Homo sapiens: one gene and its partners. The protein of the gene in region 3 interacts with the protein of the main gene of each other region in a pairwise test. Each region holds a gene or a part of one and is shown on either strand. Other genes may lie near its edges.

What was found.
Region 1: the proteins of LGALS9B (region 3) and NLRP12 interact in a two-hybrid assay, tested with the Homo sapiens proteins (one large-scale study listed by IntAct).
Region 2: the proteins of LGALS9B (region 3) and APPL2 interact in a two-hybrid assay, tested with the Homo sapiens proteins (one large-scale study listed by IntAct).

What each region holds. Positions count from the first base shown.
Region 1 is NC_000019.10:53,817,815-53,821,314, reverse strand, and holds part of NLRP12 (NACHT, LRR and PYD domains-containing protein 12), read left to right. Parts: intron 1-2,222; exon of another isoform or gene 2,223-2,431; intron 2,432-3,500. UniProt on the Homo sapiens protein: Plays an essential role as an potent mitigator of inflammation. Primarily expressed in dendritic cells and macrophages, inhibits both canonical and non-canonical NF-kappa-B and ERK activation pathways.
Region 2 is NC_000012.12:105,194,675-105,198,174, forward strand, and holds part of APPL2 (DCC-interacting protein 13-beta), read right to left. Parts: intron 3,280-3,500; coding exon 3,091-3,279; intron 954-3,090; coding exon 911-953; intron 853-910; coding exon of another isoform or gene 828-852; coding exon 771-827; intron 676-770; coding exon 587-675; intron 1-586. UniProt on the Homo sapiens protein: Multifunctional adapter protein that binds to various membrane receptors, nuclear factors and signaling proteins to regulate many processes, such as cell proliferation, immune response, endosomal trafficking and cell metabolism.
Region 3 is NC_000017.11:20,461,040-20,464,539, forward strand, and holds part of LGALS9B (galectin-9B), read right to left. Parts: intron 1-3,500.

The DNA of each region.
Region 1 (3,500 bases), on a different chromosome or scaffold from region 3:
TGTAATCCCAGCACTTTGGGAGATTGAGGTGGATGGATCACCTGAGGTCAGGAGTTCGAGACCAGCCTGGCCAACATGGTGAAACCCTGTCTCTACTAAAAATACAAAAAAATTAGCCGGGTGTGGTGGCGGGCGCCAGTAATCCCTGCTAATCTAGAGGCTGAGACAGGAGAATCACTTGAACCCAGGCGGTGGAGGTTGCAGTGAGCGAAGATTAAGCCACTGCACTCCAGCCTGGGTGACAGAGTAAGACTCTGTCTCAAAAAAAAAAAAAAAAAAAAAAGAAAAAATATGATTTATACTCAGGCATAAGCTCAAGAGATAATACATGCAAAGTGCTTAACACAATTCAGAGCAGGTAGCAAGTGCTCAGCAAATATAGGCTATTGCTGAAGTGGCAGAGATGGCACTTGAGCTGTGGAATTGTTTTTTTAAAAATATTTTTATTTTTTACAAAAAATTAGCTGGGCGCAGTGATGGGCGCCTGTAGTCCCAGCTACTCAGGAGGCTGAGGCAGGAGAATGGCGTGAACCTGGGAGGCAGAGCTTGCGGTGAGCTGAGATTGTGCCACTGCACTCCAGCCTGGGTGACAGTGCAAGACTCCGTCTCAAAAAAAAAAAAAATAATTTATTTTTTAGAGATAGGGTCTCACTATGTTGCCCAGGCTAGACTCAAACTCCTGGGCTGAAGTGATCCGCCTGCCTCAGCCTCTTGAACAGCTGGAACTACAGGTGTGCACCACAGAGCCCCATTTGAGCTGTGGTTTTTTGTTTTGTTTTGTTTCTGAGACAGAGTCTCACTCTGTCGCCCAGGCTGGAGTGCAGTGGCACAATCTTGGCTCAGTGCAAGCTCCGCCTCCCGGGTTCCAGTGATTCTCCTGCCTCAGCCTCCTGAGTAGCTGGGACTACAGGTGCGTGCCACCACACCCAGCTAATTTTTGTATTTTTAGTAGAGACGGGGTTTCACCGTGTTGGTCAGGCTGGTCTCGAACTCCTAACCTCAGGTGATCCATCCACCTCGGCCTCCCAAAATGCTGGAATTACAGGCGTGAGCCACTGCACCCTGCTTGAGCTGTGGTTTTTAATGTAATTTCTCACCTGTTTTCTCTACTGTGACATGGACGCCTTCAAAGGCAGAAAGAGTCTTGACTCCCCTGTGTGATTCTCTGCGATTCCAGTGTCTGGCTGGGGCTAGGAACCGAGCAAACTTTGGTGAACATTTGCTGAATGAGTAAGCAAGCCCTGCCAATAACTGGATATACACAGTCACTTCTGCAAAGCTTAATGACTCGTCGTTAATGAGGTGTGCCAGTAGTAGTGTGCTGGGAAACATCTCTGTAAAAAACAAAGTCTTTAATGACTGAAAAAACCAAAGACACTTGTTTGTAGCCTTTCTTCCCTCCTTCCTTCCTTCTTTTCCCTTCTTTTCCCTTTCCTTCCCTCCTTCCTTTCTTTTCTTTTCTCTCCCTCTCCTCTCTTTTTCTCTTTCCCTTTTCTCCACCACCCAGGAGACGGAGGTTGTGGTGAGCCAAGATCCCGCCACTGCACTCCAGCCTGGACAAGAAGAGCAAAACTCCGTCTTAATATACATACATACATATATATATACGTGTGTGTGTGTGTATATATATGTATACATACATATATGTATACATGTGTATATATATACGTATACATACATATATACGCGTATATACGTATACATACATATATATGCGTATATACGTATACATACATATATACGCATATATATACGTATACATACATATATATACGTATACATACACACATATATACACATATGTATACATATATATACACATATGTATATACACACACACACACACACACACACACATATATATATATATATATATATATATATATATATATATATATATATATTAGCCAGGCGTAGTGGCACACGCCTGTAATCCCAGCTACTTGGGAGGCTGAGGCAGGAGAATCACTTGAACCCGGGAGGCGGAGGTTGCAGTGAGCCGAGATCACGCCACTGCACTCCAGCCTGGATGACAAAAGCGAGACTCCATCTCAAAAAAAGAAAAGAAAGAAAAAAGTATCAATTTACTTACTTGTCATATTGTATAATTATATCTAAATGGAAGTGTTACATAGTTATTTTAAGAAATGGAAATAATGTACAAATATAGAATCAAAAGTAAAGTCCCACTTTTCTCCCTCTTCCGCCTAAATCTCTCCCAGCATTGACAATGCATAACCATTTGCCGAGCGTTCTTCCCCGGACTGCATCCGTTTAGTCTACTGAGAGGCAGCTCAGCGTTCCCAAGGAGACAGATGTCTAGCTTTGCTCTTTCTGTCTGTGTGATGCTGGAGAATCGATATGCCCCTGGGCCTCCATCTCCATCTGTAAAACAAGGGCATCAGGCAAGATCGGCAGTTCTCATGTTACTGTGCGTAAGAGTCTCTCGAGACACTTGTGGCCAATGGGGAATCCAAGACCCTCAACCCGTGATTCTGAATCAGCAGGTCTTAGGCAACAGGAATCTGCATTTTGATGTGGCTGGTTCTCGCGGCATGCCTAGGAAACACTGAGGGAGAACATCTCTGAGGCCTTTTTCAGCTGCAATTTTCAAGAATTACCTTTTTTATTTTTATTTATTTATTTTTTTGAGACGGAGTCTCACTCTGTCACCCAGGCCGGAGTGCAGTGGTGCGTTCTCGGCTCACTGCAACCTCCGCCTCCCGGGTTCAAGCGATTCTCCTGCCTCAGCCTCCCGAGTACCTGGGACTACAGGCACCCGCCACCACGCCCGGCTAATTTCGTATTTATAGTAGAGATGGGGTTTCACCATATTAGCCAGGATGGTCTCAATCTCCTGACCTCATGATCCACCCACCTCAGCCTCCCAAAATGTTGGGATTACAGGCGTGAGCCACCGCGCTGGCCTGGATTACCTTTAAAAAAAAAAAATGTGGCCACACCTATAATCCCAGCACTTTGGGAGGCTGAGGCAGGCAGATCACTTGAGCCCAGAAGTTTGAGACTGGTCTAGGCAACATGGCAAAACCCCTTCTCTACAAAATTGACCAGGCACAGTGGTGCATGCCTGCAGACCCAGCTACCTGGGAGGCTGAGATGGGAGGATCACTTAAGCCCAGGAGGTGAAGGCTGCAGTGAGCCAAGATCATGCCACACTACTCCAGCCTGAGCAACAGAGCAAGACCCTCTCTCAAAAAAAAAAAAAAATTGCCAACCAGCTGCAGTGGCTCATGCCTGTAATCCCAGCATGTTGGAGGCTGAGGCACGTGAATCACTTGAGACTAGGAATTTGACAACAGCCTGGCCAACATGGTGAAACCCTGTCTCTACTAAAAATACAAAAATTAGCTGGTCGTGGTTGTACATGCCTGTAATCCCAGCTACTCCGGAGGCTGAGGCAGGAGAATCACTTGAACCCTGGAGGCAGAGGTTGCAGTGAGCCAACATCACACCAGCCTGGACGACACAGTGAGACTCTG
Region 2 (3,500 bases), on a different chromosome or scaffold from region 3:
AGTGAGACTCCGTCTCGAAAAAATTAAAAAATAAGTAAGTAAAAAAATAAATGATGGAATAGGGTGTAGTTACTAAAAGGAACAATTCTGAAAAATGTAGAAATAGTTAAAAAAAAAAAAAGTATGTGCAAATACAAAATAAATGTACATATAAAACTATCACTGTATGTTCAGATAAGGCGTGGACATTAACATGGGATACATAAAAGGCGATTTTTTTTTCCTTATTTTTTAAAAACATTTTTGCTTTCGTTCCCTTACTTTGTTGACACTGATAGAAAATGTGGGGAGAACTCCTGACTAGGAGGACCCTCCATGCACGTCCTGTTTGCTTGGACTGCAGCAGCATGGTCCAGTGGAAAGGACAGGGATGCTGACATCAGACAGGCTTGAATCCTGGCTCTACCACTCACAATGTGGTGTGAACACAGGCAGGTATTTAACCTTTCCCAGCCATCGTTACTGCTTCTGTTAAACAGGCTGAAAAACATGCCTTGGTTTGTGTGGATTAAGCAACAACTCATTTCGTATTCCTAATCAATAATTTGGCTCCACAAAAGCTAGTTTTTCTTTGTCCTTTAGTTACCTGGGGCATGAGCTTTCTTGTTTTTTTCCAAAACTTGTAATGGGAGTCACTGCTTGCAGAGCGGTCTGATTCAACTTGATCGCGACTGCCTAAAAATCCACAGGAAGACACACTCAGTCCCAGGAGGTGGACGCTTACCTTCCAGGTTGAGAAAAGGGCTGAGATGCCGGTGGCTGATAATTACCTCAGGGTTGTCGGTCAGGTAGATCTGTCTGGAGATGTTGTTTATTGCACATATCCACTGTAGAGGACATTAAAAAAGAACACTGAATCCCAAAGTCACCCACCACGTTAGGAAAGAAATATGACAAACAAAATTTTTACCTCTTCATTTTCCTTTCTGCTCTCAGCCTGGAGGATTATTCCCCTGAAACAAAAGTGTCTAAGTAATTAAGTGCTTCCCTGATCTCAGTGACTGGGAATTTCTCTACATAAACTGAACTTAGCTGGGGTGTGGGAGGAAAAGTGCCATGAAGGCAGCATGATGAGAGGGAAAGAAAATGGGGTTCCAGGGCCAGGTGCAGTGGCTCATGCCTGCAGTCCCAGCATTTTGGGAAGGTGAGGCAGGAGGATGGCTTGAGCCCAGGAGTTCGAGACCAGCCTGGGCAACATGGTGAAACCCCCTCTCTACAAAAAATACAAAAATTAGCTGGGCGTGGTGGCGTGTGCCTGTAGTCCTAGCTACTAGAGAGGCTGAAGTGGGAGGATCGATCGAGCCCAGGAGGCTGAGGCTGCAGTGAGTGGTGACTGTGCCACTGCACTCCAGCCTGGGTGATAGGGCAAGGCCCTATCTCAAACAAAAAAAAAAAAAAGAAAAAGAAAAAAGAAAATGGGCTTGTAGGTCTGGCTCTGCCCTGATTCACTATGTGATCTTGGACAAACATGGCCGTTTCCCTGGGCCTCAGCATGTTCATCTATGAAATGAGAAGGCGGGACTCGGATCTTCTAGCCCAAATCTGTGTTTGTACAGTGAGATCCACCTGTTGACCTCCTCTAATGATCCAAGATGACCAGGACTCCAAGCCCAGCCACTCCTCAAACCATGCCCAAAGAAGGACTTGGCAGCCCATTCACTCCTTTCCCAGAACTGAAAAGTCTGCTGCGTATGGAGGCCCGGGAATAAGGTAACAGTAATACTGCCCTACCTTTGTGGAGGCGTTAACTCTTTTTTTTTTTTTTTTTTTTTTTTTTTTGATGGAGTTTTGCTCTTGTTGCACCAGGCTGGAGTGCAATGGTGTGATCTCGGCTCACCACAACCTCCGCCTCCCAGGTTCAAGCGATTCTCCTGCCTCAGCCTCCTGAGTAGCTGGGATTACAGGCATGCGCCACCACTAACGTGCCCGGCCAATTTTGTATTTCCAGTAGAGACGGGGTTTCTCCATGTTGGTCATGCTGATCTCAAACTCCCAACCTCAGGGGATCCACCTGCCTCGGCCTCCCAAAGTGCTGGGATTATAGGCGTGAGCCACTGTACCCAGCCGAGGCTTTAACTTTTTAAAGAGACCCCACATCTGCCAGTTCCCTTGTTCCTCTCATCTGTGGCAGATGGAGTAACATAGATCTTATCCCTATTTTATATCTGAGGAAAGTGAGGCCCAGAGGAGGTAACTGCAAAGGACCATGATGAGCATCCAGGAATCTCCATTCCCAGGTCATTTCCCATCACCAAAGCAGGAAGGATGAGGTCTAAAGCTGCTCTGCCAAGCTGGGAGGAGAGACATCATCCCAATGCCGTCCCCACCCCTACCCCTGCTGTTCAGGTCAAATCTTAATAGAATGCAGTGTGAGAAGAGCGGCTCTGATGACGGGCAGGGCCACTCCTCTCCCCAGGCAGGTGAACCCTGAAGCCCCTCCATGGGACCCTGAAGCCCCTCCATGGGACCCTGAACTCCTTGGAGCAGTTTAAAAACCACCACTCTGAGAGGGGATCCCACTGGGATGGGATCTACTGTGAATGGCCACAGCCTGCGGATTGGTAAAGTACCACCTCTTTGGGGCCCCTCAGGTACACAGGACATGTGGGAACAGCCTGGCAGCCGACGATGCTGCTGCAGTGGAGTACACTTCTCACAACTCCTGCTTCTGCTGGAAAAATGGCCTTCTCAGGAAGGTCGTCCTTACCAAAATAGTTACTCTCCCCTGCTGCAATCCAAACACAAATGCTTCTTTACAACAGGCTAGGAGTAGCCACAGCCTTCTCTCTCTGAGAATCTATGCTAACAAGCACGACTTCTGTTGCTGTCTCACACACGTAGGTCATCTCTTCTCCAAAGCCACAGACAAACCCTCACTTATCTCCATATGGGATAAGGCAGGCTGGATCCCTTATGGGTCATGCGGGCTTGTTTAAAGAGAGCAGAAAATCATCCTCCTGAAAGGTCAACAATACCCAGATTGGGGCCTCTCCCACAGAGGGCTGGCACATAGGAATGAACTAGGAGGCCCTTGGAACGGGTGGAACCACTATACTCATTCTCCTCCCAAATAAAACGCGTGAAACATACGATTTTCCATTGGGCGTGGTGATCTGGAAGCAGTAGCGCCGGTCTTCGCAATCCACGGCCATCACTGAGCAGTTGTCCAGGTCCTGGATCAAACCTCCAGCCACGGCTCCCCTGGGCTGACACATGAGATTCCCGCCTTGGGTGAAGAAATAAAGCCTCTCCCAGGTGGTGGTGACCAGCCCTGTTTTGCTGTGAGTTGTGTTTTAAAAAGCCCATTAGTACCAGAAAGCACCAGCGGCCACCTCCAAGTCTTGCTACCTCGTTATGGGTACTGGTGGCATTTTAGAAATAATGTGTTTCTTTATATCGTTAAAGCAAAACTGCCCATTCAAGTGGAAAGAGCAGCAGAAGGGTACAATTTAGCTGGAATGATCTGGGAGATCATGGGCTCTGCTTCCAAGGGAGACACC
Region 3 (3,500 bases):
CAGAGCCTCTTCCCAGATGCCCTCCGCAGCCCCGAGCCCCAGCGTAGTTTCCCCACCCATCCCAGGCCCCGTGGGCAAGCACTTTGTCAAATTCTCTCTTCCGCGCCTCTTTAAAGGAGCTATGGGCCATGGTGAGGCATGCATCGTTTTGGAGTCAGGCGGACTCCAGGTCTGAATCCTAACTCTGCTGCTCCTGACCTGAGTGGCCTTGGGAAGCCTATTTCACCTCTCTTTGCCTCAGTTTCCTCATCTGTAAAATAGGAAGGTGTTTCTCCTACTGCATATGATTGATGATTTTGTGAGAAAAAGCCTGTGGTAGAAGAGACTGGCACAGAGGAGACGCTTCACCACTGTCACCCACCCCCACCTTGGTCTCTCTGAGCAAAATTCACAAACTGGTACTTCCAATCTTCAAAGTTTATTCCGAAATGCCTCATATCCGGTGTGGTTCTATAACCTGCATTAAAGCACAGTTCTATCTCATGGCTGATTTTCACATTCTTCAAGTTTTTAATGTCTTCTCTAATATCTCCTTTAGGTCAATTTCCTACACAAATTAAATGCCTAAAGAAGCCAGGCAGGTGATGTGTATGAGTCAGATGGCCAGGTAGGGAGTGGTGGGGACTGTGGCAAAGTAGACGTCACACGCCTCATCTAAAAAGTCAACATCTTCTCAGCACTAACCAATGATTACCATCTGGGCTTAGTATTGGCAGAACTTCCAAATTTTTAAGATGAGACAGAAACCTGAATTTTTTTTTTTTTTTTTTTTTGTAAAACTTTCTAATTTCTTGGGGGAAATCTTTTGTCAAAAAGGATTATGTAAAAGTTCCTGACTGGGCACAGTGGCTCACATCTATAATCCCAGCATTTTGGGAGGCTGAGGTAAAACAATCACTTGAGCCCAGGAGTTTTAGGCCAGCCTGGGCAACATAGTGGGACCCCCATCTCTACAAAAAATAAAAAAATTGGCCAGATGTGGTGGTGCACACCTTTAACCCCAGTTACTTGGGAGGCTGAGGTGGGAGGATCACTTGAGCCTGGGAGGTCGAGGCTGTAGTGAGCCACGATTGCACCACTGCACTCCAGCCTGGGCAACAAAGCGAGACCCTGTCTCAAATGAAACTCCCCAAATTCCCACATTGTAGAGATACACAATGAAATATTTACAATGGAATGAAATCTCTGGATTTGCTTCCGCATATCTGAAGGTGGGAAGAGAAGCAAGCGAGGGAGGGTACAGGATGAAGCAAGATAGGCCTGAGTTGATCATTGTTGGAGCAGAGTGATGGGTGTGTGTTGTTGATGGTACAATTCTCTCTGCATGTTTGAATTTCCTATAATAACAAGTTAAAGTAAACACTGTGTAGGCCAAACAGAAAACACCCACTAGCCAAATTCAGCCTACTGGTCACTGCTTTCTGGTCTGTATTGTTGAGTTATGTGACCACACAGCACCCTGGGAAACCCATCCTAGCTCAGTGTACACACCTGGCACCGTGAAAGCCCCAGGCAATCTGAGATCTGATCCAGATAGTCTCTGCTCCCCATGGATTTGAGGGGGTTGTCTTTTCTTGCCCCTCAGGTCAGGTCTGAACTCTGCCATTAAATACTTTGGTGACCTCAAGCAAATCACAGCTTCTCTGTGTCTCTGACTTCTCTTTCTTGTCCCTGTCTACACCAGCGGTGTGGGGGAAGGAGAGTCAGCCTGATCCAGTTATGGGCCAGCATGGGCTAGGATTGGGAAGCCTGTTGTCCCTGAAACACGTCTGTGGAAGATTTTTCCCCTTGCCTGTTTGTGGCAGCCTGTGATTCCCTCCAGAGCCTTTCATTCTATCATGAGAGACAACGCTGAAAATACACACCCTCCTGGGAAGCATGCGGCCTCCACTCAAGCGTATTCACACCACAGCACCTAGAATTGAAGGCAGAGAGTGATGGACATGGGCTCGCAAGTCCACACAAGGCTTAACTAAGGAAGCCAGGAGGGAGAAAGACCAAGTACAGGTCATGGGGGCAGGACAGGGCAGGCTAATCTCCAAGGCAACAAGTTCCCCAAAAAAGTTCTGTGAGGTTTCAAAATGTCTTAAATGGCACCCCCAATTTCTGAAAAACAAGATTATTTTATTATTTATTTTATTTTATTTTATTTTGAGATGGGTTCTCACTCTGTTGCCCAGGCTGGAGTGCAGTGAGGAGTGTGATCATGGATCACTGCAGCCTCCACCTCCTGTGCTCAAGTAATCCTCCCACCTCAGCCTCCCGAGCAGCTGAGACCAAATAAGTGCAGGCCACCAAGCCATACCCCACTAATTTTCAAATTTTTTTGAAAAGACCAGGTCTCGATATGTTGCCAGGGCTGGTCTTGAACACCTGGGCTCAAGTGATCCTTCTGTCTTGGCCTCCCAAAGGGCCGGGATTTCAGACATGAACCACTATGCCTGTCCTGAAAAATGAGATTTTAAATTGAATATCATCCAACAAACAAGGTTATTCATTGCAGCATTATAACACAAAGGATTATAAAGCAAAGCATTGGAAGGAGCCTAAAAGTCTTCCAACAGGGAAAAGGTGAAATAAATTAGGGTATTTCCATATAATAGAATAAGTTCTGTGTAGCTTTCAAAAGAAAAGAAAAAGAAGACGGAAAAGAAAAAAGAAAAAGAGGAAAACTCTGAGCACCGATATGGAATAATGCCATTTGCATAAAAAGTGGGTAGGGGAAGGCTATGGACTTGCATTTATTTATTTATAGATAAAATATCTCTGGAAGGATTTACAAGAAACTTATAATACTGGTTATCAGTGGGCGACCCCCCAGAAACATCCACATTCGAATCCCCGGAAACTGTGAATATGTTGTAGAAGGGACTTTGCAGATGTGATTAAATGCATAATTTTGGCATGGGGAGATTGTCTTGGATTATACAGGTGGTCCCAATGTAATCACAAAGGTCCTATAAAAGGGAGCAGGAGGATCAAAGTCAGAGGTAAGAGATGTGACAACAGAAGCAAGAAGCTGGTTTTGGGGGTTTTGTTTGTTTGTTTGTTGTGTTTTTTTTTTTTTTTTTTTTTTGAGACAGGATCTCATTCTGTCACCCAGGCTGGAGTGCAGTGGCATGATCTCAGCTCACTGCAGCCTCCACTTCCCCAGGCTCACGCGATCCTCCCACCTCAGCCTCCCAGGTAGCTGGGACTACAGGCATGCACCACCATGCCTGGCTAATTTTTGTCTATTCTTTGTAGAGACACAGTCTCAGTTTGTTGCCCAGGCTGGTCTCCAACTCCTGGGCTAAAGAGATCCTCCTGCCTCAGCTTCCCAAAGTGCTGGGATTACAGGCATGAGCCACTGCACCCAGACAAAGCTGCTGGTTTTAAAGATGGCAGGAGGGGTCATAAGCCAAGGCAGGCAGGCAGCCTCTAGAAGCTGGAAAAGCAAAAGAAACAGATTCTCCCCTGGAGCCTCCGGAAGGAAACAACCTTGCTCACACGATGATTTT